Linked DNA regions of Homo sapiens: region 1 is linked to region 2. A link means that fine-mapping ties the variant in region 2 to the expression of a gene that starts in the linked region. Tissue or cell type: whole blood. Region 2 holds a variant in brackets; the other region holds the start of a gene. All regions are shown on one strand. Distances are from middle to middle.

Region 1 (2,752 bases), 26 kb before region 2:
GGCTCAAGGGAGCCTTGAATAGTAGCCTCCCGAGTAGCTGAGACTACAGGCTCACGCCTGAATAATTTTTGTATTAAGTTTTTTTTATTTTTTTATTTTTTCTGGAGACAGGTTCTTGCTCTGTCACCCAGGCTGGAGTGTGCAGTGGCATGATCACAGCTCATGGCAGCCTCGACTTCCCAGGCTCAAGTGATCCTCCCATCTCAGCCACCCGAGTAGCTGGGACTACATGTCTAACTAATTAAAAATAAATTTTTTTTTTTTTTTTTGTAGAGACTAGGTCTCACTAGTGTGGCCCAGGCCAGTCTCGAACTCCTGAGCTCAAGCCATCCTCCTGCCTGGGACCCCCAAAGTGCTGGGATTACAGCCATGAGCCACAACCCCTGGCCTTAATTTTTGTATTAATTTTTGTATTAATGTTAAACCAAGTAAAATTAAATACAATTGGCTGGGCGCAGTGGCTCACGCCTGTAATCCCAGCACTTTGGGAGGCCGAGGTGGGTGGATCACTTGAGGTCAGGAGTTCGAGACCTGCCTGGCCAACATGGTGAAACCCCATCTCTACCAAAAAATATAAAAATCAGCAGGGCGTGGTGGCACACACCTGTAGTCCCAGCTACTTGGGAGGATGAGGCAGGAGAATCACTTGAACCTGGGAGGCGGAGGTTGTAGTGAGCCAAGATTGCCCCACTGCACTCCAACCTGGTTGAAAGAGTGAGATTCTGTCTTAAAAAAATAATAATTAAATACATACATACATACATACATACATACATACAATTATATGCCCAGCTCCTCAGCTGTGCCAGCCTCTCTTCCAAGGCTCAGTAGCTACATGGGGCTGATGGCTGCTGTATTGGATGGCCAACATTGTTCTAGAAGATCCCAGGAACCAAGGAGCCCAAGTTCCCCAGAAACCAAGAATCTCACTACTGTTTTCACAGTTTCAATTAGATTGCCTCACCCCACCTCTGGCAGACAGATACACATGGAGCACCAGTATGTGTGCGACCCTGTACCCAACTATTCACACGCATCTGCTCATCCAATCTTCATGCCATGCCCTCAGAGGCAACCCCAACTTTATGAAGGAAACCGAGGCACAGAGAGATCAATCATTGGTCCCGGCTGACTGTGATTTTGCCCCTGGTCTGTCTGCCAATGACCTCCTGTTTGAAACCATCACGCGTGGCTCTCTGGGTTTCCAAGCTCCCCTTGCCGCCCCCCTAACCCAAACCACCACTCACAGCTGGAATGGGGGACGGGGGGCAGGGCAACGGGTGGCCCCATGCAGGCTTTGGCCAGCCCAGGAAGTGACACCTGCTACTTCTCCTGAAACCCAGGCTCCGGGCAGGGGGGCCTCCCCTCTGTTCCTGAGGGGGGCCAAGGCGAGATGATGGGTATCTACTGGCCAGGGCTCAAACTCACCGGACAGGGTAGCGAGTGGGATGGGGCCCCTGTCTGACGGGGCAGGCGCCAGGAGACAGCCACGAGGCCACTTCCGTCAGCACCAAGTTGGAGGCTTGTGTGCATGGGTTGGGGGGGGGACAGGAAGCTCACCCCGCCCCGCCTACCATCCAACCGCCACCTTTCCTCCCCCGCCCGATCAGCACCCATGGGACCTCCCTGGAACCACACAGGCCATGGGTGAGTAAACAAGAGGCGCTTGAACCTGGAGCCCCCCGGCCTGAACCTGGAGCTGTTCTTACCGAACAAATATTAATCATGGCAATTGGGAAATAACTGAGCACCAACCCTGGCCCAGGCATTCAACATCTTGCCATCCTGAGGTAGGCCGATACCCACTTCACAGACTGGGCAAACTGAGGCTCAGAGAGGGAAATGCGCTCAGAAAGGGGAAGACATGGCCAGGCGCGGTGGCTCACGCCTGTAATCCCAGCACTTTGAGAGGCCAAGGTGGGTGGATCACGAGGTCAAGAGGTTGACACTATCCTGGCCAACACGGTGAAACCCCGTCTCTACTAAAAATACAAAAATTAGCTGGGCGTGGTGGCCCATGCCTGTAGTCCCAGCTACTCAGGAGGCTGAGGCAGGAGAATCACTTGAACCCGGGAGGTGGAGGTTGCAGTGAGCCAGAGGTTGCAGTGAGCCGAGATTGCGCCACTGCACTCCAGCCTGGCGACAGAGCGAGACTCCATCTCAAAAAAAAAAAAAAAAGAAAAGAAAGGGGAAGACATTTTTGCATTCATGAGCGCTTTCCTTCACTACAAAAGAAATTTAAAATTATATTTTAGGTGGTGGCTGATGCCTGGAATCCCAGCACTTTGGGAGGCCGAGGCAGGTGGATTGCTTGAGCCCAGGAGTGCGAGAACAGCCTGGGCAACATGGTAAAACCCCGTCTCTACTAAAAATACAAAAGTTAGCTGGGTGGGGTGGCATATGCCTGTAATCCCAGCTACTCGGGAGGCTGAGGCAGGAGAATCGCTTGAACCCAGGAGATGGAGGTTGCAGTGAGCGGAGATCGAGCCACTGCACTCCAGCCTGGGTGACAGAGAGAGACTCTGTCTCAAAAACAAAACAAAACAAAACTGTATTTTACAACTACATTGACATAAAGACAAATATATTAATATTATACACAAAAATGTTTCCTTCAACCCAAGAGTTCATTTTTTTCCCTTTGGATTTTAAAAGAAGTGAAAACATCAACCTAGGGACCCCTAAAAGCACTGTGAGCCTGAGACACTGGGCATTTTGGGTCTGATGGAGAAGTCAGCCCTGCTAGAACCCA
Region 2 (2,752 bases):
CTGGGTCCGGGAGACACTCGGTTTGGGGTCTTTCTTCAACTCCCGGGGGGTCTTGGCTTCTTTCTCAGTCTTGCGTGGGGCCTCAGCCCGTGCTGGCTCCTTGCGGGCCACCCCAGGGCGCTCCTGGCCAGGTCTAGGGTGGGTGGCCAGGAGGCCCTCTCTCTTCGAGCTGTCCCGGGAGCCCACGCTCTCTTTGCTCTCGGCTCGCCCCGGCCCCTCCAGGTCCTGGGGCGTCACCACGGGCTCTCGCAGGAACCTCAAGTGCTGCAGGCGGACCAGGCCGTCCAGGAGGCAGGCGGGCGGGGTGCAACCGGGGAACAGCACGCGCACCACCTTCTCGCCGGGGCCGGCGGGGTGCCACACCAGCAGGGCGCACACAGAGGCCAGCGTGCGCTCGGCGCCGGCGGAGGGCGGGTGCAGCACATACATGTCCAGCCGGCCCACGCCCATCTTCTCGAAGAGCACGGTGGGTTTGGCTGGCACGGGGCCGCGGCTGAGTGGCAGAGGCGTGATGCCCAGCTGCGCCAGGAGGCTCAGCGCCAGCTCCGCCTCATCCTCGCCGCGCGCCAGCCGCGACGCGGCCTCGCAGGCGTTGAAGAACACGACCCCCAGGTTGGGGGAGATGAGCCTGCGCAGCCTGTCGTCCCAGGAGCCCCCACCAGCAGCCACCTCGGAGCGCTCCGCCAGTTTGCGCCGCAGCAGGCTGTTGAGGCCGGGGAGGCTGTCGGCGCCAGGGTGGGTCACCAGCACGGCATCCACGCGGTCCAGGTGCCGCACCAGCTTCCAGAAACTGGACTTGGGGTTTGAGCCACCGTTGACCAGCACAGTGAAGCCATTGACGGCGAAGAAGGCGGCATCCCCGAGGCCTCCAGGGAAGATGTAGCAGCAGGGCCGGCCCAGCCTGAGGAAGCCCCCGGAGGTCGGGGGCTCCAGCAGCTCGAAGGGGGACGGTGGCTCCAGAGACTCAGCCACGTACTCCAGGAATTCGCACAGGCCCTCAGAGTTGGGCAGCTGCGCCGGGGGGTTCAGCCGCAGCTGGAGCCGGAGCGCCCCCTGAAGGCCAGGCACAGCGGGTGCCAGCTGAGCCCAGTCACCGAAGGTGGGGCAGGTGATGGTGAGTATGGGCGGCTGCACAGGTGGGGGCGTGGTGGCCAGGATGTCCCGGATCTGTATGGAGGAGGAGTGGTAAGGGACCACCTAGAGCCAGGCAACACCTAGCCCGGTGGGAAAACTGGGCGAGGACACCCTCATCCTTTCCCCCAGGGCCTGCTCCTCAGGGCCCTCCCGCCAAAACCCAACCCTCTCCAGCGCCACAAGGCTCTTTGATCTGGCCTCACCTCCTGTCTCTCCCTCCCCTTCAAATGCCTCCCTGCCCCAGGGCCTTTACACTCACCATTCTCTCCTCCCAGGGCACAGCTCCCTCCAAGGAGACTCTCCACGCCCCACCTGTCTACTGAACCTTTTCTCACCATTTTTAAGTGCCCCACTACAA[T/C]GTGAAAGTGAGGTTTGCCATTTTGCCCATGTGTCCTACCCAGACTGCGGGCACCAGGAAGGACCCATTTGGCTCCATCCCTCATCAGGACTTTGGGACATCTGCTGACCTACAAACTCAGCTCACACCACACCCTTTCGCGGGCAATGGGACTGACCCCAGACAGCCAGGAGGCATGTGTCACCACTGCCATCCTACAGAGGATGGGGAGACCAGGCCATGGAAAACAGCAGGTCGCTGGTGCCACACAGCCTGATACACCCCAGTCAGGATTCAGAGCTGGGGAAGCAGGGGATGGCAAAGGGGTGGCTTACCTCTCTGTCCTTCAGGACCTGGAGGAAGTGGTGAGGCGAGAAGCCCCCTGTCTGTAGCAGCAGCTCCCCCGTCTCCTCCAGGCAGGGCCCAGCCAACACCAGTAGCTTGTGAGAGGCAGGGTCCAACAGAAGGTTCCGGAGCTGAGGGAGGGGGTGAACACTAAAGGACCCGTTCTGTGCAGTGACGTATCCAGCAGTCCTCTTTGGGGTAGCCTCGAGTCGATACATAACCACCCCTCTCCTGTCCTCACCCCACGACCAGCCCAGTGCTCAACTAGCTACGAAGGCAGTCTCCAGGTCTCCTGCTGGGCCCTGGAGCAACCCTAGCAAACTCCTATTCATCCTACAAAGCCCAGCTCTGATGTCCCTTCCTCCTGAAGGCACTACTTGCCCTTTCTGGGCTCTCTCTAGTCCACCTCTCCCTCCAGCCCAGCCCTGATGCCACAGGGCTGGGGGTGTCTGTGTCTCACTCTGTCTCTTAAAGACTGAGAGCCCCTCAAGGGAACAAAAGGGAAAAGTTGATCCAAGGAATCAACCTGTAAGAAGGTCTGTAGTGGGATGCCCCAGGGCTCTGTCTGGTTCATCTTCCGGATGTATAATTGGTAGAGTACAGATGGCCACAAGCTGGTTAATGTTAGTGAGTCGATTCAGACAACTCCTGGGGCCTAGCCGGAGGGAACCCACAGGAGGAAAACCTGTCTGCTCTGGCCTTCCCACCTCCAGACCCACGCTGTCCTGGGCCCTGAGCTGGGAGTGCTTACCCTCCCCTCCCTCCCAAAGTCCAGGCTTTTCTGCTCCCACCCCAGAGGAGGGAAGAAGCGGAGGCTGAAGCCACAGGGAAGGCTTCGTGGGCGAAGAAGTGTGGTGCCGGGTGTCTTGAGAGGATCTGGGGCAGCATGAAGACAAGGACACGAGACAGGAAGACAGAGAAGGCACGGGTCCCAGC

What was found. PIP is the estimated chance that this variant, and not a neighbour inherited with it, causes the effect.
Region 1: it holds the start of FCHO1, and the variant in region 2 is fine-mapped to the expression of FCHO1 in whole blood (TOPMed, PIP 0.97).

The regions. Positions count from the first base shown.
Region 1 is chr19:17,750,254-17,753,005 of GRCh38, reverse strand. FCHO1 (FCH and mu domain containing endocytic adaptor 1) reads right to left here and starts at 1,529. Exons shown (of 29, transcript NM_015122.3): 1 at 1,429-1,529. FCHO1-AS1 (FCHO1 antisense RNA 1) reads left to right here and starts at 1,609. Exons shown (of 5, transcript XR_007067152.1): 1 at 1,609-1,790; 2 at 2,256-2,348.
Region 2 is chr19:17,724,244-17,726,995 of GRCh38, reverse strand. MAP1S (microtubule associated protein 1S) reads right to left here. Exons shown (of 7, transcript NM_018174.6): 4 at 1,807-1,947; 5 at 1-1,167. Among named protein-coding and RNA genes, the nearest start is that of MAP1S, 6.1 kb to the right of the region's middle. The variant T/C (reference allele first, on the strand shown) is at 1,493.